Homo sapiens: one gene and its partners. The protein of the gene in region 1 purifies or fractionates together with the protein of each later gene. This does not show direct contact. Each region holds a gene or a part of one and is shown in the gene's direction. Other genes may lie near its edges. The genes, in order: MELTF, TSEN2, IQSEC1, ZNF195, MADD, SLC25A13 and LOXL2.

Region 1 (3,500 bases):
TTGCCTTTTAAATCAGAAAGTCCATCACGAAGGCAAACATGGACCAGATCTGAGGAGGAAGAAGGCGAGTGCCCTGCACACGAGGAAGCACGTAGGACGATGCGCTCTAGTGCTGGGCAAGCCTGGAAATGGGCTCCCGTTCACAGGCCCCAGGACGAGTCTGACAAAGGAGAATTTGGAAAACGGGCAAAGAGTAGGGATATGTTGGGTTAAGAATCAGCTCTTTCAAACTTGGGGTTTTTTTTGAGATGGGGGTCTCACCATGTTGCCCAGGCTGGTCTCAAACCCCCAGCCTCAACTGATCCTCGCATCTCAGCCTCCTGAGTAGCTGGGATGACAGGCGTGCACCTGGCAGCTTTTTCAAAGTGTTGATGGTAATCTGAGGCAATCTAAGGGAGTCATTTTTTAAGTGACTTTATACAGAAAGATTGGTAAGAGCCAAGGGGTAGAAGTGGCATAAATGTCTAAAGCAGGGAAGTGACAGGACTTTCATTGTTCTTGGCTGAGGAGAAGCGGGAGTGGCTGATGGAAGCACCTAAATGATGCCTTTGTCTGTGGGAAGGCAAATGATGCCCCAGAGCTCTAACCAAAGGTTTTGCAGCCGCCGAAAAACAGGAAAGTTGGGAAGCGGGGGTAGGACTACACTGAATCATTAACAGTGCTGTAAACTACCATGTGGCCATTAACAATGACCTTTAGGGAGTTTTCCTAAACGATCACTCTGGTGCGGGTGTTTGGTTTTGTTTTAAAATAGCTTTGCAGTGAAAGCTTTCATGACCATACAAATTATCTTTTTTCTTCCTATTTCCTTGTAGAGGTTTTTTTCCTCCTTGTCTTAAGGTCATAAAAATATTGTTATGTGGGACCATCTGTGGTTTAATTATAGTCCTTAATATTCGTCTTCTCAATATCCCTGTTTGGTGTTAATAGTTACTCTTGCAAATTTTCTTTTCTATCGAGAAACAAATGAACTTATGGAAAGTTTCCAATACTGTGGAAAAATACTCTACCAAATAGGATGCAAAATTGCCTGTCAACTATGTCCTTAACCAGGTTAAAAGCGGTCAAAAGGAGGCTGGGCACGGTGCCTCACGCCTGTAATCCCAGCACTTTGGGAGGCCGAGGCTGGCAGATCATGAGGTCAGGGGTTCAAGACCGGCCTGGCCAACATGGTGAAACCCCATCTCTAGGAAAAATACAAAAATTAGCCAGGCATCTTGGTGCACACCTGTAATCTGAGCTACTCGGGAGGCTGAGGCAGAAGAATAACTTGAACCTGGGAGGCGGAGGTTGCAGTGAGCCAAGATCATGCCACTGCACTCCAGCCTGAGCGACAGAGTAAGACTCCATCTCAAAAAGAGAAAAAAGGCCAGGTGTGGAGGCTCACGCCTGTAATCCCAGCACTTTGGGAGGCCGAGGTGGGTGGATCACGAGGTCAGGAGATCAAGACCATCCTGGCTAACACAGTAAAACCCCATCTCTAATAAAAAAAAATACAAAAAATTAGCCGGGCGTGGTGGCGGGCACCTGTGGTCCCAGCTACTCGGGAGGCTGAGGCAGGAGAATGGCGTGAACCCGGAAGGTGGAGGTTGCAGTGAGCCGAGATCGTGCCACTGCACTCCAGCCTGGGCGAAAGGGCCAGACTCCGTCTCAAAAAGAAAAAGGGGGGGTGAGGTCAAAAGACAGGAAATAAAATAGAAAAAAGGACTTGAAAGAAATCCATCGCAATATGAATAGTTGGAGTTATGGGAGATCCCCCGTCCTCTCTAGTCCTGGGGTGGGTAGATTCCTTCGGGGTTTGTTTCCACCGTGGCCCCTGCTCCGGGAGCCCTGCCCCCTGCCCCCTGCTCAGAGCCAAACGCAGTGCCTCATGGCAGCCGCAAGCTCATCCTAGACTCTTGGTACATTCATCTGTCTCACCCAAAGCCTTTCTTTTTTTTTGAGACAGAGTTTCGCTCTGTCGCCCAGGCTGGAGTGCAGTGGCGTGATCTCGGCTCACTGCAAGCTCCGCCTCCCAGGTTCACACCATTCTCCTGCCTCAGCCTCCCCAGTAGCTGGGATTACAGGCGCCCGCCACCACGCCCAGCTAATTTTTTGTATTTTTAGTAGAGATGGGGTTTCACCGTGTTAGCCAGGATGGTCTTGATCTCCTGACCTCGTGATCCGCCCACCTCGGCCTCCCAAAGTGCTGGGATTACAGGCGTGAGCCACCACGCCCGGCCAGCCTTTCTTATTTTCTTACTTTTTTTATCTTGAATAGTTATTTATAAGTATTGTATTACTGTCAGATACCTCCAATTCACTTTAGCAATAGAAATTGGTGAGAGCTAGAAAATGAGAGTAACGAGATAGAGTCTGTGTAGGTACCTGGAGTTGGGTGCGGCCACCAAGCTCTGCCACCTTCTGAATGCTGGGTTCTCATGTCCATGACACCCAGCCACCCCTCAGATTCCCTCTCCTGGGCCTTCCCCGCCACCCGCCCCAACCCCTTTCGGAGCTGGCTCAGCCCAGGCTTCCTGCTTCCCAGGGAAGACGCTTCCCTCCTGGGGCCAGGCCCTGCTGTCACAGGACTTCGAGCTGCTGTGCCGGGATGGTAGCCGGGCCGATGTCACCGAGTGGAGGCAGTGCCATCTGGCCCGGGTGCCTGCTCACGCCGTGGTGGTCCGGGCCGACACAGATGGGGGCCTCATCTTCCGGCTGCTCAACGAAGGCCAGGTGGGCTCAGGGTCCCCCAACCACCTGCACAGCTTCCTAGATGGTGCCGGGCCTTGTGGTCGCTCAGCAGGGTGGGACCAGGAGGGGCAGGACCCAGAGACTGTCCTTGGGACGGACCCCAGCATCGGGCCAGGTCAGAGTGAGGAACCGACTATGCTGGCTGGCCAGAAGGAGGGCTGGCCAGGAGAGGGGGGCCCAGAGGAGGGGGACCCAGGGATTCAGGCACCCTCAGAAGAAGCTCCTGAGACTTGTGTCTCTGAGAGCTAAAACCAAAACATATGAGCAAATAAACCAAGTAACAAAACCAGCGCCTTTCAAAGCACACCATTAATTACATGTGGCGAATAAGGTTTGGCTAAAACCGCCGCTTGTGACAGCAATAGACTTCTGACTGCTGGTGCCCCAGGCTCAGTTAGTTTTGCCCTATCCAGGCTGCTACCACCAGCCCCACGGCGTGTCCTCAGGACCGTCCCATGCCTGGCCACAGCCATGTGTCCAAACAGCTGAGTGTGAGGAGGCCAAATGAACTCAGAGTAGACCCAGAACTGACAGGGCCCAGGGGAAGGAGGCCGCAGATCAGGGGAGGCGCCGCAGAAGAGGGAGGCCTCACCTGGCCCTCAGGGTGGGTGCCTGGTCTGAGGTCGGGGAAGAAGGAGGTAGGGGCCAAAGTGGGAGGGAAGGATATGGCCTGTCAGCACCCTCACCACCCTGTACCACACCCCTTGACACACAGCGTCTGTTCAGCCACGAGGGCAGCAGCTTCCAGATGTTCAGCTCTGAGGCCT
Region 2 (2,340 bases), about 180 Mb from region 1:
CCATTGGACACGAAATCTATGCTGACTTCCTCTATTCCTTAATTCCCCACTTTATTACCTGTGATGTCCCCATCACTCAGCTGAAACTGCTCTCTTACAGGTGGCCTGTGACCCCCTGGCCAGGCCAGGACTTCTCACAGGTCTCATTCCCAGAGACCAGAGGTGTCCCTGTTGACTTGTTCCTGCTTCTGGGCTTCTGTATTGAACCAAGGCGCCTCCTGTCATCTTGGCTTGTTTCTCTCTGGTCTGGCCGAGTTGTCTAGTGTGTGTCCGTGTTTCTGCATTCCCTCCCTCTGTGTGTAGAGCCTTAACGTTGCCATTGGCTCCTCCCAACATCCAGTATGTCTTTGTTGTCGTCCTGTCTTCTTTTCACACCACCCTGCCCCTGCAGACCTGCTGGTCGGTCTCCAGGGCCCCAGCACGTCTTCCCTTCAGTTGGTCCCACTTATCTCCACTAGGCTAGTTTCTCATAAAATGCTCATCAACCTCATTTCTCCCTTCTCAGTAGCTGGCCCCGTTACAGCAATGCCATCACAGACCTAGCTCTAATGTAAAATGCTAGCTTTCATCCCGCCCACCTGTTTCTGAAATGTGCTAGTAGAATACCACAGCAGAGGCAAGCTTAGCTGTTAAAATCTTTGCCTGGTGAAAGTAGATACTGTATGCTTGTAAGGTTTATATTGTTACATTCATTTTCTCCAGATGTTTCTGTTCTAAAGGTGGGAACAGTATCATCATTATATAGACCGCCCTTTGTGAAATGTAGCTGTGGTGTCAGCTGTGGTGTCAGAATGGTCTTACATTTCTGTTTTAAGAAATGGTCTTTTTTTTTATTGGTTGTAGGAGGTGATTCTGAGTCGATGGGTTTCTTCACGAGAGAGGAGTGACCAAGACGATCTTTAACAATTCAACCTCAAATTTCTAATTTCACCAACAACTATTTATTGAGGGCTAGGTAAAAAGTTCTTTTTGTTGTAATCGTCCATTAATTCATAAGTTTTAAAGGGCATGGTGCTCCCAGCACCAGAAAACTATCAGTGTTTTTAAAGATAAATTACACAAGGGAGGAGAAAGATCCCTGTGCTAGGACTGCAGATTCTATACTTGCGTTGGCCTCTAACTCTCCAATCCAGAGCCTCCTGCCTCTGGCGTCAGTCTTTTCCCTCATCCACTCACTGGGGAGATTGGACTAGAGGAGTCCTGAGAGGACACTTCCAACAAGAGACATTTATTCTCTGATTTTACCTGAAAATGGTAGTAGTTTACATTTATACAGTACAGTTTATGAAGCACTTTCATACGCAGGCATCTCTTGTTACCTACATCTAAGCTGTTCCCGAAAGAGTGTTACAGAACACAACAGTATTGTACAATATTCGATAAGCATATCTTCACTGCACTTGTTATAAAAATGAGTGGTGAAATAATGTTTGGAGACATAATGAAAGCGATTAACATTTGGCAAAATATAATAAAGCCTTTTTGTAATTGGTGAGAAAGTCATGAAGACTTAAGTTGCCTCAGGGCATCTGGTGGCAAGAGGAGGGAGATGGGTGGCTGGGCATGGTGGCCCATACCTATAATCCCAGCACTTGGGAGGCCTTGGGAGGCCAAGGCGCATGGATCGCTTGAGCCCAGGAGTTGGAGACCAGCTTGGGCAACATGGTGAAACCTCCTCTCTACTAACAAAAATTATCCAAGCATTGTAGCACATGCCTGTAATTCCAGCTGCTCAGGAGACTAAGGTAGGAGGATCGCTTGAGCCCAGGAGGAAGAGGTTGCAGTGAGCGGAGATTGTGCCACTGCAATCCAGCCTGAGCAATAGAGCAAGGTCCTGTCTCAAAAAAAAAAAAAAAAAAAAAAAAAAATGTGGGTGGTGGGGAAATGGGAAGGGGGAATACTTGCTCTTCGGTGGTAGAATACTTAGGCTAAGGTGGTAGCCTGAGCTGTATCCTCTTAATGGGTCCAGACACTACTTGAATGATATTGCTGCAAACCCTTACATGTTTGTTATATTTAATTTGGATAGCCAATATGGGGTAAAATATTTTGCAAACCGTGATAGCAAACATTTGGAGAGTGGGAGTTGAGATGCGGCAGATGCCTGTGTATTTATCCCTGCAGCAGCCTTGTGAATTCAGGAGGAGGGACCCACAGAGGGGTGTTTGAAGCTCAGAGATGTTGGCGGGTGTGCATCACTACCAGTCATGCACGTGGAGGACTGGACCTGAGATCACTATCTCAGCTGAAATGGCGCTATCCTAAAAATTGCATGCAGTCAGAAATAGAGCCCTGTTTGGTGGTGGTGGTGGTTAACAAGGAAGGCCACCCACCACATCG
Region 3 (3,500 bases), about 180 Mb from region 1:
ACTTTCCCAACAGTTGCACTGTAGCCACTATCAGAGCTGCCCAACTTGATTGCAAAGCGTTCTCATGCTTAGTTGCCTCATGGGGTCTCACCAACTGCTGTAAAATGTGATACTGTCGATCCCGTTTTACAGAAGAGGAAACTGAGGCTCAGAGAGGGGAAGGAACTTGACTGGGGTCACACAGCTGTTTCCTGCCGTACATTTGGCAGTGGTGTCCCTTCCCCAGCATGCCACATGTCAAATCGGGACAGACTTGCTCCAGCGGCCCTGTGCATGGCACAGCCAGGCTATCCTCAGCCTAGTGGAGCCCTGCCGGCGGGCCCCCACCCCCACCCCACTGTCCTCACTCCCTAGCCTCCATTTTCGCCACTTCCACTCTCTGGGCCCCTGGTGTGCACCCAAGGGAGCTTTATGGAATCGAGACTCTGTCCCGGTCAGGGCTCAGTCCATCGTGAAGGTGGCACACTGGATGGGATAAAGGATGACAACAAAAGCAGGAGAAGATTTCTTAACCCAATGGGGGAACATCAGGAGGCTTCCAAGAATCAGACCCTGAATCAAACTTGCTAACACCTGAGGTCATTGCTGTACTGGCAGCTTCATGAATGGTGTCTGAATGAAGGATGGCCCTCAATTCTGTAACTACAGCATCCTTTTCATCATCTCTGCAAGGGGCCCCTCTGTCCTCATGGGCATGTCACATCCTGTCACTTGAACACAGGAAGTGAGGCTGTGAGGAGTTTGTGGTGTGTGAGATGTGGGCTGCTTGGCCAGGCCAGTGGAGCACTCGCCTACCCATGCCTGTTCAATCATTCATTCACTGCCTGGAACTGTCCCGACCCCTCTCTTCCTTCTGTTTGGGGGACATGATGACCTGCCGGCCCCCGCAGGAGGCAGTGGTCTCCCTCTGGTGGGATGCCCTGACCTGCTGCTTGCAGTGGGGCCTTCATGAAGGAAGCGAAGCCCTGGTGGGTCTCCCCTAGACAGAAGAAGGGACACTGGTGGGACTGGGCCTGGAACATTCCACACACACACACACCTCCAAGAAACTTGTGCATTGAGCCTTCACCATTATCACCTTGGCTGGGTCAGTTCTGCAGGCACAGTTATCAGCATCTGCTGGACAGTGGGCCTGGGCTGGATGCCAGGGAAGAGCAGCCCCAGCCCACCGAGAGAGATGCAGGGAGGGAACCGGAGGCCCAGTCTTCACTCAAGCACGTGTGATGACCGGTAGCCTTTCTTGCCATGCAGTGATCACTATTAAAAATGGTTATTATGAATGACCCACACAGCACTGGGCTATTTTCCAAGAATGCTGTAGCATCTATCCACCCTTTACAGCCCCAGGAAGCCACTGGGCAGGTCCTGGTTATAACTCAGAAAGACTGGGATATGCAGCCAAGGCCGCATAACCAGGCCTGGGCCTTCACTTCCCTGCCTTCAGCTAGTGTTCATGGTGCACCTGCTGTATGTCCAGCTCAGTGCTGGGAACCACTGAGAGGGTGCTGCTCTCAGGGGATACTGCAGGGGAGAAGGACACAGAGAAATGAAGAAGATAGAGAGCCCAATGGGAATGGATTGAGTGAACTGTGTGGCCACTCAGGAAGTGAGGAGGGCTTCCTGGAGGAGGTGACCTTTGAACAGAAATCTAAATGATTAGGAGGAACTATCCAGGAGAAGAGTGGGGGCCCCGGGTGCAGGGGACAGCAAGTGCAGAGGCCCTGGTGAGGGCATGCTTGACAGGATTGGGCCACAGAGGGAGGATGGTGTTGCTGGAGCAGAGTGGACCAAGAAGAGAGGTAAAGGGGCTGGGGCTGTTCATGGAGGCCCTGGAGTAAAGAGTCACATCGTCATGCTGGAAGCTAAAGATATGAAGAAAAGACTGGGGGTTAAAGAGGTTGGGGAACTGCATTGGGGCCTCCCAACCATGAGGGGGTGTCATGAGCCTGGGGCCTGAAAATTCAGAGGCCTGGCCACTGCCTCTGCCCCTTTGCAAGGCCAGGGCCCAGGCCTGCTCCCCGTTGTATACCCAAAGCTGGCATGGCCTGGCATGATGTTGGGACTTAGAGACCCTGTCTGGGGTGAATTTTAGAGACTGAGAGGAACAGACTTTTCTGGTAGTTGCTGGACAGGCAGGGCAACAAGTAGCGTCTGCTTAGGCAAGCACCTACCTCTGACCCACCTGCCACCATCTTCCACCAAAGGATCCGTGAAGGACAGGTCCGACATCCACATCCTCCCTGGGCCTCAGAGGAAGCGTAAGGCCTGGATTGGCCCCAGCCCCGGGGCAGGACCCTGCTGGGCCTTGGTCAGCCCATGGTCAGCATCTTTTCCCAAGTGCCCCAAGCACAGGCACTGGGCCTAAGCCTCCTGCTCTATGTGGTGGGGCTGATACTCCCCTTCCAGGGTTTGCCTGCGGGCCAGCAAGCAGGCTGGGCCCCAAGCTCAACAAGTGTCACGCCATCCTTGTCCCTCCCTGGAGGCCCTTTGTTGAAGCCCCCCAAGGCCCCCTGTGCCCCTAAAGGACCTGGCACCATCTCCTCAGGGCCCTGGCCTGCCTCCTTGCACTGACTCACTTGGTCTTTAAGAATAACAACAAAAGTGCCTTATCTTGTTGAATCCCACAACTCTGGCAGGGTGGTTGTGTGCCATCCTGTTTTCCAGGGAAGTGCCTTGCTCAGGGTCACAGCCAGTGAGTCTGCCTGACTCCAGACCCTGCTCCTCCCCAGCCAGATCTGTGTGCCCTTGTGGGTGGGGCCAGTGGGCACCCAGTGCACAGAGATGGGATGAGGAAGGGAAGGAGGGTGGTCAGGGGGCCCAGGTGTTGGGGGACCTGACGCCTTACCCTGAGCAGGTTCCAGATCTCTTGGCCGCAAGGCTCTGTCCCTCCCCACCCCTTCCCCACTGCATGCACTACCTGGAATGTGTTGGTCACTGCCACTGTGGCATGGCTGCCCCCAGCCTGCTTGTCCTGGGTGCTGAGGGTACTTGTCCCACAGTGGCTGGGAGCCCCCCACCCAATGCCTGTGGACCAGACCAGTTTTGTCACCACCAGTGGGGGCTTAGGAGGCGTTGCTCCTGGGTGCTGGCTAAGCTGCTCCCAGGCTTACCTTAGAGCCTGCTGCTTTCCCCCAAAAGCCTACTGACGACACAGCCCCCGTCTGCCCTTCCCGCTCTTTCCAGCCTGTTGGATGGCTCCTGTTCTCTCAAATCTCACTCTTACCCCCAGGAGGCTCCCTGCAGGCAGAGTGGATGAAAATATCCTGCCCCTTGGTCTCTGAGGCCCTGGCCCACCTGGGGCCTTACAGAGCAGGACAAGGAGGCTCCACTCCAGCTCTGTCCCTGCCTCACTATGTGACCCTGGGCAGGCTGCTTGCCCTCTCTGGGCCTCTGACCTCATCTGGAAAGTTCCTGGTTATGCTGCGACACACAGGGGACTGGGAGTGGGAGGAGTGGTGTCTGCCAGGCACAGCAGCTCCAGGCATGCTGGCTCATTCACA
Region 4 (3,500 bases), on another chromosome or scaffold:
ATTTATTTGTCAGAACCTGGGAGATATTTGTCAGGACCTGGGAAATATTTGTCAGAACCTGGGAGATATTTGTCAGAACCTGGGAGATATTTATTTGTCTCTTGAACTTTGCATAACACTAAGGTTTCGGTATGATTTGATTCAGATTATAATTGACCTTTTGGCCAATATCACACCAGTAATATGTCCTTCTCTGTGCATTGGCACGTGATAAAAATCTGTCCTATTACAGTTGATATTAGTTTTATTCAGTTGTTTAAAGAGCTCCCTGACAGATTTTCCATTGTGGAGTTTATTTTTTTCTCTTTTAAGTACCTTGAGGAGATTTACTAATTAATGTGCATAAATAATCACATTTAATCTGAAAGGTTTTGCTTCTTAGATTCTTTTTGCATATGCCTTGCTTTAGAAGATGAAGAATCTCATCTCTCTTTATGGTTTAGAAAAACTGGGATAAACCCAAGCTTGCCACTTACAGGATTTTTGACAAAATATTGTCCTTGGGCCCAAAGGACTGGCATCACTGGTGAGCGCGTTAGAAATTCGGAAACTCAGCCTTGACCTCCGATTTCCTGAAGCAAAATCTGCACACTAGTTTATTGGACACATGAAAATTGGAGAGGCAGCTTCTAACTCACCATGACTTTTCTGCCTGCGAAATATACACAGCTTATTCATGTGACGTAAATGTAGCACTCAAAAATGGACATGCCTTTGTTGATGCCCTTAATGTTATACTTGTTATCAACCAGAAAAGTATTGTATATACACTGCTTATGTGGCTCTCAGGCAATTCTCTTTCCTCAGAGTTAGAGAGTATTCTTCTGCTAAGAATTACCTTATTGTATAATTTCAGTCACTTGTGTAAGTCAGAACCAGTTCTCTTCACTCGCTCATTTCACCTCGAATCAAGTATTTGTTATTGTTGTTGTTTCTTCTTCAGACTCTGTTGACGTTCAGGGATGTGGCCATAGAATTCTCCCTGGAGGAGTGGAAATGCCTGGACCTCGCTCAGCAGAATTTGTACAGGGATGTGATGTTGGAGAACTACAGAAACTTGTTCTCCGTTGGTGAGGATAACTTCAATACGTAGTTCCTCCTATGCCCTAAAGAGTTCCTTTCGTTCCTCTGCGGAATGTTTTTTGGGAGTTTCTGCGTTGCATGAATGAGTTTCAGATCCCTGCTTTTAAGAAAAACATGGGGAATAGTTGATGTAAAAAAAAAAAAAATCTTCAAAATGTGGTTCATCTTGACATAAACCTTCCTTTTTTTTCAGCTGATCTGTATCTTTCACTCTAGTGACAATTCCAGAAATTCAGTGGCATGAAATATTGTTGCCCACAACTTAAAGTCAAATTTCCACCACCAATTTTTTATGTCAGCAGTACTGAGTGGTGAAACTAAGAACCCACAGATTTAAAATACTTACTGAATATTCTAAAGGTGATGTCAGGAAGCATAATTTTGGGATTAATTTTCTAGAATCTTATATAATGTTCACTCTACTAAGCACAGTACAAGGTTGATAATTGGAGAATTTCAGCAAGAGTAATGTCACTTTTTTCTAATAAAACAGGTCTCACTGTCTGTAAGCCAGGCCTGATCACCTGCCTGGAGCAACGAAAAGAGCCCTGGAATGTGAAGAGACAGGAGGCAGCAGACGGACATCCAGGTGGGTGGGAATGAACGAAGCAGGTAACCCAGGTGAGAGGTCCAGAGGTCGAGGAGGAAGCCAGACCTTAAAATGTGGTTTGAGAAGCTCTGCCCTAGTGGAGATGGTTTCTGAGAGCCTGGGTGTCTTTCTCTTGCTGTACCCTAGGAGCGTCTTCTGTCTCATTCTCTCAAATTTTGTATAGACTCTGCTTCCTGTTTAGTGATCTTCCTTTATAAAGGTTACAGTAAAAATCAGAGTCCTCCTCCTGACGAGTAAGGGCCTGTGTGGTCTCATGGCGTGCTCCGCCACTGCTTTTGGGAACATGCCTGTACCTGCCTGTTTTTGAGGAACTCTGTTAAATGTTTTTTGATTTCCTTTGCATCATGTCTGAAGTGTGCGAGAGGCGTGGTGATGGTGATTGGTTCAGAAATCCCAGAAGTCCCGTAAACAGATGTTGTATGCTTTCTGCTTTATGATTTCGTATCCTACAGAGGTTTCAAATGGGAGTCTACAGAAATGTATACTCAGCAGTTTTCTCCGAACACTAGGCATCTGCCCAAATATGAGATAATCTAATGTTATTTTACTTCAACATTTTATTTTATTTTTTTTAGTATGAGCTGAGGTTGGTCATTTAAACTTTATATTCCCTAACTCCCAACTGTAATAGTTATAATATTATCATTTTATAATTTCTTCTTTTTTAGTATGAGGCTTATCAGGACTCTGTCATTCATATGTATGTATGTGTGCATATGTATATATGTGTGTATATATGTGTGTATATATGTGTGTGTATATATCATATATGTGTGTATATATAATATATCAACATATCCTTTTGAAATGATAGGATTTCATTCTTTTTTATGCTGGAGTAATATTCTGTTGTCTATTTAAATCATATTTTCTTTATCCATTCATGTATATATACACACACATATATACAGTGTGTCTATGTGGGCATATGTGTAACAGATTATTTTAGAAATAAAAATTGTGTATATATTGTGTACAATGTAATAATTTGATATGTGTATACGTTGTGAAATAATTAGTGCAATCACTTCAAGGAACAAATCTATCACTTCACGTAATTACCTTTTCTTGTAGTGAGAACAGTTAATGTCTACCGTTGGCAAACTTTAAGCATACAAAAGATTATTAATAGTATTCGTGAAGCTACTCATTAGATTCCCCAAACTTACTCATCTTACAACTGAAAGTTTGTACCTTTTGAACAACAGCTCATTTTCCCCAACTCCAGGCCCTGGCAACTGCCATTGTCCTCTGCTCCTGTGAGTTCAGCCACGACAGATTCCACGTCTGAGGGGGAACGTGCAGTCTCTGTCTTTGGGGCCTGGCTGAGTTTATTTAGCAGGATGTCCTTCAGGGTCATCCACGTGGTTGAATGACAGGATTTCATTCCTTTTTTATGGCTGAGTAATATTCTATTGTCTATTTATATCACATTTTCTTTATCCATTCAGCATCCGCAAACGTTTAGCTTGTCTTTATATCTTGACAATTGTGAATAATGCTGCAGTGAACATGAGGGAGCAGATAATTCTTCAAGATGCTGCTTTTATTCCCTTCAGTTATTATATACACAGAAGTGTGATTGCTGCGTTGCAGGGTAGGTTTATCTTTTTCTAACTTTTAAATAACGCCCCCCCACCCTGGTTTTCATAATGACTCTACCAGTTGAGAACTCTGAGCGTTCAGAATTGTTTTTTCTTTACATCCTTATCAACATTGTTAGTAGATTGGCGCAAAAGTAAGAGTATTTCTTACTATTTAGAAGGCAAAAACCACAATTACTTTTGCACAGCCCTAATATGTTACT
Region 5 (3,500 bases), on another chromosome or scaffold:
TGTAGGAAGTTATTACTGTTACTATCCCCATCTTACCTGTGAGGAATTGTGGACACAGATGAACTTGCTCAGGGTGGCACAGCTCAGTAATGGCAGAGCTGGAATCTAAACTCAGGCTGACTTTAGACCTGTGCCCTTCACCATTGTGCTGTAATGTCTCCCGTAACATTTGAAGCCTTAAGAACGGATAACTGGCTGCGCATGGTGGCTCACGTCTGTAATCCCAGCACTTTGGGAGGCCGAGGCGGGCGGATCATGAAGTCAGGAGATCAAGACTATCCTTGCTAACACGGTGAAACCCCGTCTCTACTTAAAAAAATATATAAAAAATTAGCCGGGCATGGTGGTGGGTGCCTGTAGTCCCAGCTACTCGAGAGGCTGAGGCAGGAGAATGGCGTGAACCTGGGAGGCGGAGCTTGCAGTGAGACGGGATTGCGCCACTGCACTCCAGCCTGGGCGACAGAGCGAGATCCGTCTCAAAAAGAAGAACAGATAACTTCACCTGAAAGAGAATGTTGAACAAGAAGGTGTCAAAGATATTTGCTTTTTAATTTATATCATCCTGTATTGTATCATTTTTATGTAATAAGCATTGTTCATGTGTCACTTGTGTAATTAATTTTTAAAAATATTTTTATAGAAAAAGGGTAGACCCAGGATTAGAAAGTGCATCAGCTCCATTTTTCTCCTTGGTTAAGTCTGTCATGATCTCCTACCTTTGTGTTTGTCAACAAAGATGATTCCTGAGCTTGTAAGATGGAGGCATGAGATCTCCTCCAAATACTTTAAGTCCGTAGAGCACATAAGAGGTAATAAATAACTGGGCCGGGCGCGGTGGCTCACGCCTGTAATCCCAGCACTTTGGGAGGCCAAGACGGGTGTATCACTTGAGGTCAGGAGTTCGAGACCAGCCTGGCCAACATGGTGAAACCCTGTCTCTACTAAAAATACAAAAATTAGCTGAGCATGGTGATGTGTGCCTGTAATCTCAGCTACTCGGGAGGCTGAGGCAGGAGAATCATTTTAACCCACAAGGCAGAGGTTGCAGTGAGTCGAGATTGCACCACTGCACTCCAGCCTGGGCAACAGAGTGGGACTCCATCTCAAAAAAAAAAAAAAAAAATTATAGCCAATGTGATGGTGTGCACCTGTAGTCCCTGCTACTTTGGGGGCTGAGGCAGGAAGAACCTGGCTGGTCGAGGCTGCAGTGAGCTGAGATGGCGCCACTGCAGTCAAGCCTGGGGTACAAAGTGAGACCCTGTCTCAAAAAAAAAAAAAAGAGGTAATAAATAACTGATTGATTTGTGCCTCCTCCCTTATACATCGGTTCCTTCTAATGACTCCATCTCTTCCAACAATCCTTGTAGCAGGCAGCATGTCAGTAGTTCTGTTTTGTGTCTTCACCTAGGGAAACCATGAGCGTAAGGCAGAAAACCTGACCATGGGGATGCCCCAGGACCACCTTTCCCTGTAGGAAACAGTCTAGGGAGAGGCTGTCAGAGACAGGAACCACTGAGCCGCTTTGTGCACTTCTCCAGGTGTGCGATGACTGTGTGGTGTTGCGTAGTAACATCGGAACAGTGTATGAGCGCTGGTGGTACGAGAAGCTCATCAACATGACCTACTGTCCCAAGACGAAGGTGTTGTGCTTGTGGCGTAGAAATGGCTCTGAGACCCAGCTCAACAAGTTCTATACTAAAAAGGTACGCAGGATCTGTGTTTGGGTTGGGGCTAGTAGGCATTGAAGACCAAATAGTGAATTTCTCTTTGGGAAGTTAAAATTCCAAAACACACATCTGGAGCCACACTTCTGTCTCCAGCTGTTGGGTGGAGTACCTAAAGCTGTCTCTGTCAAGCCAACTAGGCCTAATAGTAGTCACAATCGGTATTAACCAACCATATCTAGCATTCCTACACATCTGTACCCATGCCTTCTTTAAAGCCATACTATTCATATGCTCCGGATCTATCATTCATAACCTCAACAATGAATAAGACATCCGAAAAATAGGAGGACTACTTAAAATTTTACCCCTCACTTCAACCTCCAGCCTTCAGTGGCCATTATAGAGCAGTGGGTGGGGAACCCTGGACAGCCCTCATGATGGGACCACTCTCCCCCTGTGCCACAGTGTCGGGAGCTGTACTACTGTGTGAAGGACAGCATGGAGCGCGCTGCCGCCCGACAGCAAAGCATCAAACCCGGTGAGGAGAGTTTTTCCTGAGAGTGTCTTCCCTGTTTCTACCAGTCCTTCTGAGTGTCAGGGGCCTGGCAGGGAAGTCAGGGGTGGGATTCCCCACCTCACCAGTGAGCTGATAGCCCCCTCCCTCACCACAGGACCTGAATTGGGTGGCGAGTTCCCTGTGCAGGACCTGAAGACTGGTGAGGGTGGCCTGCTGCAGGTGACCCTGGAAGGGATCAACCTCAAATTCATGCACAATCAGGTAGGTGCGAGCGGCAGCACGAGGCTCCCTGTCGTTCCATCTGTAAGAAGGACCAATGTCCAAGCCCCCAGTACTTCCCCAGCAAGCATGAGAGAGGGCCCTCTGGAGCTAGAGGGAGAACTGGAGCAGCTGGACCCAGGAAAGAAACCCCAGGGGAGGGCACAGTGACGTTGGCGACCACCTGGCGCTGTGAAGGTGCACCAGGGAGCCCGTGGGGGAGGCTGGGCAGGAGCGAGGCCAGGTGGCCACGCTGCCCCATCCGTTGGACTCCACACAGTGTGAGTGGGAGCGTCTCACTTGGCCCTTCCCCTGCAGTGTCTCTGCCTTCCTCTATTCCCAGGATATGCTTCTGCTTGGTGGTTTTGCTTTGAGAGTCTAGACTGGCCGATCTCCTTGTGTCTTTCTGGTGTGCGTGCAGCTTGCGTGTGCGTGCGTGCGTGCCTGCGTGCTTGTGTGTAAGTAGCTTGTATCTGTCCTCTCTGGAGTGTGTTTATTTGCCTTTTTCTTCTGCGGATTCTTCTTCCTGTTCTTTTCCTTCCTCTGAGTGTTCCCACTCTGTCCCCTGCTCCACAGGCCCCATTCCCTTTCTTTTGATTGGGGAGCACTTGTGGATACATCTTTCCCTCATTGTAATTCCACCATAGGAGCTGACTTTTTTTTTTCTCTCTTGGTCTTTTAACACAGTGTTACCTTTTTCTCTCAGTGGACATTCCTTAAGCTAATTCCTTTCTGAGGCCAGCGCATCATCCCAGGTCCGTTCACAGCTCTGACTCCTCACACAAGTGCCTTCCCTCCTCTTTCCCTGATGTCCGGGTTCCTCTCCCTGAGGCTCTGAGCCAGACCCAAATGTGTGAAGCCCCACAGACCCTGGCCAGGCCGCAGACCCTCAGGGGAGGTGGATGCCTGACTGACGTGGCTGTCTCCCTCCCTCCGCTAGCCGTTGTAGCTCTCTTTCAGGAACGTAGCTGGGCAGCTTTGGTTTAACAGGAAATGGCTGCGCAGGCTGCCAGCAGCCCCTTAGTATATTTTCAATTTAGGACTTAGGGCAGTAGCCA
Region 6 (3,500 bases), on another chromosome or scaffold:
GGAATTTATGTTAACACAATGATCTTTACTCTTTCCTTCCTCAGTCCTGTCCCCTTTTACCAGGAGAGTCCTAGAAATGGAGTCCCAGAAACATTTGTTATTGGTCCAAATTCCCATGAATGCCTTTGCTTTTGGCACTGCTCTAGGCCAGTGATTCCCTACATACTGAAGTCTTCTGGACTGGTATAAAAAACTGCTGATGCCTGGGTCTCCCTCCAGAGATCATGATTGAATTGGACTTGGGTGTGGCCTGAGCCTCAGGATTTTTGAAAGCTTGACAACCACTGTTATTTTGGTGCACATTGCTTCAAGAGACCTGCTGGCTCCTTCTTGGAGTAAGAATGGAATGCAGTGAGATTAAGTTAAAGTCCCTGGTGTGTCAGTTCAAAGGAGGGGTATGTAGGGGTTTCTCCAAATTTCTCTTCTTTCTTGACAGCTTTGTCTTAGTCCTGCCTGGTGTCTCCAGGGTGCTTAGGCATCAAGTTTATACAGTTTTGTGATAATCCTGGAATAGAGGTTTTAATCCCAAACTTGACTGAAAGCTCCATTTGTCTCCTGCAGAGTCTCAGTGGTTTTTTGTGATCAGAGAAGGTGCTGGAGGAGGGAAGCATTACAAAGAGCAAACCTGGTCTCAGAGCCCTCTCCTGGGCTAACCTCATCCAGGGCCATGTGGTGCCAGTGTTCCCTGGCTTAGGTCATATGGCTTCACAGCAAATAGAGGGTTGGAAAGGTGTGGGGAGAGTTGAAAGGTGATATGTAGCGTAAAAAAGTCAGGGAGCAGGTCTTTTTTGGATATTGAGTTCTTTTAGAAGATTGTCCGAGGAGCTCTGACTCCTCTGTGCTTTGGTCTCTTAGACCTTTAGTCCCATGACCAGTCTCTGCTTTTGATGAATTCTTAGAGGGAACCATTCCTCCCTTTGTTCTCCACTATGTGTGAGGATTATCTATTATGGCATTCCTGCTGAGCGCTTCCTCCTCTCTGGTTGGCATTTGCTGCCTCATAAACACCTACAGATTTCCTCATAAGACTCTGTGGGTTTGCCTTAGGGTGGACCTTGCAACAGAGGAATGTGTGACGCTGAGACATGTGTTGGTTCTGCTTGGAGGTAAGGAGGGGGATATGCCTTTGTGTAGTGATACAATTCCTTTAGCAAAGTATTTAACAGCTACTGAGCAAACTCTATTTTCATGGCCTGTTTAACCAGACAGACCCTCTAATTGGGTGAAATGAACTAAATTAAATGTCCTTCTCCTAAAAGTCACCAGTAACCTCAGTTCTAAACCTGTTGGCTTGTCCTCATTTCTGGCCTCACATGACCCTGTGTCCTACCCTTTCTTTCTCGCCATCTGCTTTCATGATGTCCCCTCTCATTATTGGCCTCTAGCATCTCATATTACCCCTTTATTCTCCTTTGCAGGCTTCTTCTTCTTCTTCCTTCTTCTTCGTCCTTCATCCTTTCTCCTCCTTCCTTCCTCCTTCTTCCTCCTCCTTCTCCTTCCTTCTTCTTTCTTCTTTCGTCTTCTTTCTTCCCAGCAAAGATATATTTTTATTTTAGTGTTTAGCAGCATGACATATGCATATAGAATGATAGTACACTTTACCCTAATCTTCAAAACAGAATGTACTAGTTTACCAATGAGGAATTTTGGCCAAAAATGTAGTGTTTTTCCCTTCCCTGTACAGGTCAGGTATATGTAGGTCCAGCACTAATGCTGCACCTTTTGAGAAGCATTACTTTAGCAAAAATCTAGAAATCTTTCACTTTTTCTGAATCTAACAAAGGGTCTTACTTTCTTTTTTTTTAAATGTACATTTTAAAAAATAATTTCAACTTTTATTTTAGATTCCGGAGGTACATGTACAGATTTGTTACCTGGATATATTGCATGATGCTGAGGCTTGGGGTACAGTTGACCCCATCACCCAGGTACTGAGCATAGTACCCAATAATTAGTTTTTCAACCCTTGTTCCCCTCCCTCCTCCCTCTAGTAGTCCCCAGTGTCTATTGTTGCCATCTTTATGTCCATGAGTACCCATTGTTTAGCTCCCACTTATAAGTGAGAACATGTGATATTTGGTTTTCTGTTCCTGCATTAATTCACTTAGGATCATAGCCTCCAGCTGCATCCATGTTGTTGCAAAGGACATGATTTTGTTCTTTTTATATCTGCAAGGTATTCCACGGTGGATATATACCACATTTTCTTTATGCAATTCACCATTGATGGGCACCTAGGTTGGTTTCCTGTCTTTGCTACTGTGAATAGTGCTGTGCCTTGTGGGCTTCTCTTCATTCTGCCTGGACACCTGGAAGGTTAGTGTCCCCCAAGGCTGTGCCTGAGATTGTCTCCTCCCTCCAGTTCCTGCCGCACTACCTGCCCCCTTAATGGGTATTGGCTCCTTAACACTCCTCAGCCTGGGTGGCTGTCTCAAGCTCTAGCCCTGCACTTTTAGCTGTTTAGTTTGAGCTGGAAGACTCAACTTGTCTGTCTCAAAGATATTTCAAACTCTGCTGACCTAGAACTCACCAGTTCTTATAACTGAATCCATCTTTTTGGTCATTCCTGACTTCATCCTGCAGCTTCACTTTCCTGATAAAGTTTCTAGTTAGTTCAATTAAGTACCTGTTATGGGCAGATAGGAGAGACACCATCAGCCTGAATTGGATGTGGCAAAAGAGGTGGATCAGTGAAACCCTTCTACGGCCATGGAGCATGTATGTCCTATCTTCTCTGTTCAAATTCAGGGCCTCTTTATTTTGTAGCTGTACCATTGCTGTAGCTCCCACTGATCCCCTTGCTTTTGATCTCATCCCTACACCTTCCTCTCCATTCTGTCCAGACTGCCAAAGGACTTTTCTAAGATTGGCTCTTGTTGCCATGATAATAGCACTACCGTGTTCATGGGTACAGTACTTAGCAGCTTTAAAAAGTGCATTCAAGGGCATAAGTGACGACGACTGTTTGTCAGTGCCTACACTGTGCTGGGATTCCAAAAACAGGTAAGCTACTAGATTTGTTTTCAAGAAGCTCAAAGTCTTCAGGGATTAATATAACCAGATAATATAAAGACCCAAGCTTCATTATTTGATCTTTATAATCATCTACAAGGTAGCAGGGAACGTGTTGATAACCTCATTTGTCAGATAAAGAAACCTAAGGCTCAAAAAGGTTATGCAAATAATAATAATAATATTAGCATATGTTTATATAACACTTGTAAAAGCCGGACACTGTTCCAAGCACTTTATATCTACTAATGCAATCTTCATAACAATCCTATGACATGTAAGTGCTCTCACCTTCATAATATACATCGAGAAACTCATTTGTACAGAGTAGTTAAGTTCTTTGAGGTACAGAGAGATTACATAACTTGCCCAAGATCACATGGCTTGTAAATAGGAGAGCTATGATTTCAACACAGGCAGCCTGGCTCCAGAGCCCAAGCACATAACCAGTGTGCTGCATTGCCCTCTTTAATTTATCTTGCTATGCA
Region 7 (3,500 bases), on another chromosome or scaffold:
TAACTGAAGAGTTGTCAAAGAGGACTCACAGCAGAGGAAAAGAGGAATTCAGGGTCTTGCTAAACAAGAAGGTAACCTTGAGGAGCCCTTGAGTCATTCCAGAAGGTGGCGGTAGGCAGGAGAGGGGGTTTGTCCCAGCTCAAGAATCAGAAGTAGAAGCCCTGGGGAGGGGTCTCTTGCCTTGTTGACCAGCATGCCATCCTCCGCAGCCGCCCCTGACCTGGTCCTCAATGCGGAGATGGTGCAGCAGACCACCTACCTGGAGGACCGGCCCATGTTCATGCTGCAGTGTGCCATGGAGGAGAACTGCCTCTCGGCCTCAGCCGCGCAGACCGACCCCACCACGGGCTACCGCCGGCTCCTGCGCTTCTCCTCCCAGATCCACAACAATGGCCAGTCCGACTTCCGGCCCAAGAACGGCCGCCACGCGTGGATCTGGCACGACTGTCACAGGTAGGCCTGGCTGGCCACCCTCCCCACTAAGCTGCCCGGCGGACATCCTGCAGGCCTCAGATGGGAGTTGAGAGTTGCCAGGGTCACTTAGAGCCAAGAGGCTGCATGGCCTGGGGATAGGATCCTCCTAAGTGGGGGGCTTGCATCTGCCACACTGGCTGTCAGATTTCCCGAAGCCATTCTCCACTCCAAGTTCCCCTGGCCTGCCACCCTTCTTCCTGCCTCCAATGCTTCTAACATCAGGAAACACACTTTGTTTTGAGCGCCCATACCCTCCTCGTTGACCTTCAGCCCATGGTTTCCAAGTGTGTCCACAGGTTTGTGTGCTGCCAGGTACTCCAGGCTGTGCAGTTGCTGGACTCTAAATTCCTTTAGAAATATTCCCAGCCTGGCGCGGTGGCTCACGCCTGTAATCCCAGCACTTTGGGAGGCCGAGGCGGGCGGATCACGAGGTCAGGAGATCAAGCCCATTCTGGCTAACACGGTGAAACCCCGTCTCTACTAAAAATACGAAAATTAGCCGGGCATGGTGGTGGATGCCTATAGCCTCAGCTACTTGGGAGGCTGAGGCAGGAGAATGGCGTGAACCCAGGAGGCGGAGGTTGCTGTGAGCTGAGATCACGCCACCACACTCCAGCATAGGCGACAGAGCCAGGCTCTGTCTCAAAAAAAAAAAATATATATATATATATATATTCCACGTACTGGTATGTATTTTAAATACCTCTAGGAAGACAATGGGTGTGGAGACTGAAGTCTAGGCCCAAGAGTCCTGAGACCTGGTCTCTAAACGCAGCCGTGCCTCTAGCGAGCTGCATGATGTCAGGTCAGCTGGGCGGCATCACCTGGGACCTCGCCTGTCCCTTCCAGCTCTGTCAGTCTGTGGACCTGATCCCAGCGCTGCAAATCCCAGACAAGGACAGAAGAACAGGGTGAAATCCTACAGCCAGACCTGGCTAGAGCCACCACAAGCCATCTGCTCATCCTCTTACCTTCCCTCTGTTTCTTTGTTTTCCCTTTTTTGCCTGGACTCTTAATCTAATCCAGAGCCTGCTGTCTCTGTATGTCCAGGGATTTTTTTGCTCAGACCTGAACTGGGTGGGTAGAGGGAAGAGAAGCAGGCACACCCTTGGAAAGGAAGGGAGACAGGCCTCTACCACTAAATAAAGCAGGAAGCCCCCGAGGGGCTACAGGCGTGGCCTAGTCATTGCCCTTCTCCACACTTGGATGGGCCATCTATACAACCTGGCCTTTGCACCACATCCCTGCTTCTCAAAGTGAGGTCCTTGGACCAGAGGTATCTGCCACCACCTGAGAGCCTGGGACCTGCTCAATCCCAGGGCCCGTGGCAGACCGACACATCAGCATCTGCATTTGGCAGGATTCTCAGGTGACCGTGTGCACACTGCAGTGTGAGAAGCCGTTGTCTAGATGATGTTGAGGCTCCGCTGCAGCTCCGGAATGTGGTCATCACTGTTATGGGCAGAACTAACATGTCCTGGCCCCTTCTAAGTGTCAGGCCTAGGGAACCTTCGTTCTCCTAGAAAAGGACACAGAGGCTTGGAGTTGTCTCTTGCCCAAGATAATGCTAGGAGTTGCAGAGAGCAGGAATCCCGGCTCGGGCCTGTCTGACTCCAAACTACATGCTCTTTCTTTTTTGTCTGCTGACTCTTCATCAGAAATCTATCTTTGGCTTTTTTTTTTTTTTTTTTTTCATATCGCAGCTGATGACCTAGTCACATTCAAATCAGTTTTGGGATAGTTGTTCCACTAGTCTCACAAGAAAGGACTATGGTAGAATTCAGGGGTGCTGATTTTCCATTCAAACAATTGAATATTCTGAACGTCCTAATTAGCCCAAGAAGGTGTGGTCTTTATAGAGAAGCAGGCTAGTCTTCTTCAGGTTGTAAGTCAGTAGAGTTAAAGTCATGACGGTTTTGGTGCTTGGCTCCCTTCGGGGAACGTGTGGGTGGAAGCCCTGGGCGGCGGGGGCTGACGCTGCCTATGGGTCTATAAGCAGAAGATAATTGCATCCCAGCCCTGCATATGGCAGCCCACCCACAGATTACATGGTAGGAACCTCCCTGTGCCATACACTTACGCTCCAAGGACTTGGTCTCCTCTAAGAATAGGCACATGGTGACATCCTGGAAATGTTCTTCTGATCTGGAGACCCTGGCTCCCTGCCTGCTCCCCAACCCCCTGCTCCCCCACTTTTCCTGTGGTCTATTTTATTTCTTTGTTTACAGATGTTCTAGTCAGTGGCTTGGGAGGGGATGGGAGGGAAGGAAGGACATGCTGAGCACATGTACCTTCTGGTCTCCCCCTCCTGGTCCACAGCTGAGAAACAATGACCATAAGATCCTAGGGACCTTAAGAGGAGTACCTCGAGCTCCAGGTGACTTCTCCAGGTGCTGTGGGAGGAACAGGATCCTGGCCTCAAACATCTGTTGGGTTCCTTTTGGAAGCTGATGAGAGCTGGCCCTTCCTCTCCTCAAAACAAATATTTCTAGAAGTTTAATAGCCTATGTCAGCAGATTTGCAGACACTCTGAAGGCCATCTGGAGCCAGGCTTGAGAACCCTGGCTCAAATTAGTGGGAATGGGAAAAAATGCCATTTCCAGTTTAATTGACGCTACCTCGGGGAAGAGAGCTCTGTTCTTTGAAAGCCCTTGGCTGAAACACAAAGATTGGCCCCCTTGGAAATTTCCTCGAAAACCAGACCTGGAGGAAAGTGCCCCCGGAGTTATTCTGTCTCATGTGCACTGTGCCCTGGCCGATGGTCTCCATGCCTCTCTCTCCTGCCTCTTGTGGGGCCACCGCTGCTCAACTGGCACGATGTGCCACGCTCTGACAGGACAAAGCATGGGGCACAGATGCACAACAGGCTCCACAGGCCAAGGGGCTTGGCTCTCCCACCTCGGGGGAATCCCAGGAGAGGAGCTAGGAGTTGGAGAAGCAGGGCGTGTGGGCTCCAGCTCAGATGACAGTCCTCCGGGTCAGGGATGGCATTGCTGCAAAGAGGAGAGACTCCCTTTCACTCCACC

Evidence for each region.
Region 2: the proteins of MELTF (region 1) and TSEN2 purify together in Homo sapiens (affinity purification with mass spectrometry; one large-scale study listed by BioGRID and IntAct). This does not show direct contact.
Region 3: the proteins of MELTF (region 1) and IQSEC1 purify together in Homo sapiens (affinity purification with mass spectrometry; one large-scale study listed by BioGRID and IntAct). This does not show direct contact.
Region 4: the proteins of MELTF (region 1) and ZNF195 purify together in Homo sapiens (affinity purification with mass spectrometry; one large-scale study listed by BioGRID and IntAct). This does not show direct contact.
Region 5: the proteins of MELTF (region 1) and MADD purify together in Homo sapiens (affinity purification with mass spectrometry; one large-scale study listed by BioGRID and IntAct). This does not show direct contact.
Region 6: the proteins of MELTF (region 1) and SLC25A13 purify together in Homo sapiens (affinity purification with mass spectrometry; one large-scale study listed by BioGRID and IntAct). This does not show direct contact.
Region 7: the proteins of MELTF (region 1) and LOXL2 purify together in Homo sapiens (affinity purification with mass spectrometry; one large-scale study listed by BioGRID and IntAct). This does not show direct contact.

Annotation. Positions count from the first base shown.
Region 1 is NC_000003.12:197,016,318-197,019,817, reverse strand, and holds part of MELTF (melanotransferrin isoform 1 preproprotein), read left to right. Parts: intron 1-16; coding exon of another isoform or gene 17-213; exon of another isoform or gene 214-865; intron 866-2,527; coding exon 2,528-2,715; intron 2,716-3,448; coding exon 3,449-3,500. UniProt on the Homo sapiens protein: Involved in iron cellular uptake. Seems to be internalized and then recycled back to the cell membrane. Binds a single atom of iron per subunit. Could also bind zinc.
Region 2 is NC_000003.12:12,531,819-12,534,158, forward strand, and holds the end of TSEN2 (tRNA-splicing endonuclease subunit Sen2), read left to right. Parts: intron 1-843; coding exon 844-903; 3' UTR 904-1,840; downstream 1,841-2,340.
Region 3 is NC_000003.12:13,066,930-13,070,429, reverse strand, and holds part of IQSEC1 (IQ motif and SEC7 domain-containing protein 1), read left to right. Parts: intron 1-3,500. UniProt on the Homo sapiens protein: Guanine nucleotide exchange factor for ARF1 and ARF6. Guanine nucleotide exchange factor activity is enhanced by lipid binding. Accelerates GTP binding by ARFs of all three classes.
Region 4 is NC_000011.10:3,369,147-3,372,646, reverse strand, and holds part of ZNF195 (zinc finger protein 195), read left to right. Parts: intron 1-943; coding exon 944-1,070; intron 1,071-1,576; coding exon 1,577-1,672; intron 1,673-3,500. UniProt on the Homo sapiens protein: May be involved in transcriptional regulation.
Region 5 is NC_000011.10:47,322,133-47,325,632, forward strand, and holds part of MADD (MAP kinase-activating death domain protein), read left to right. Parts: intron 1-1,538; coding exon 1,539-1,703; intron 1,704-2,132; coding exon 2,133-2,205; intron 2,206-2,338; coding exon 2,339-2,445; intron 2,446-3,129; exon of another isoform or gene 3,130-3,201; intron 3,202-3,500. UniProt on the Homo sapiens protein: Guanyl-nucleotide exchange factor that regulates small GTPases of the Rab family. Converts GDP-bound inactive form of RAB27A and RAB27B to the GTP-bound active forms.
Region 6 is NC_000007.14:96,312,099-96,315,598, reverse strand, and holds part of SLC25A13 (electrogenic aspartate/glutamate antiporter SLC25A13, mitochondrial), read left to right. Parts: intron 1-3,500. UniProt on the Homo sapiens protein: Mitochondrial electrogenic aspartate/glutamate antiporter that favors efflux of aspartate and entry of glutamate and proton within the mitochondria as part of the malate-aspartate shuttle.
Region 7 is NC_000008.11:23,306,621-23,310,120, reverse strand, and holds part of LOXL2 (lysyl oxidase homolog 2 precursor), read left to right. Parts: intron 1-209; coding exon 210-453; intron 454-3,500. UniProt on the Homo sapiens protein: Mediates the post-translational oxidative deamination of lysine residues on target proteins leading to the formation of deaminated lysine (allysine).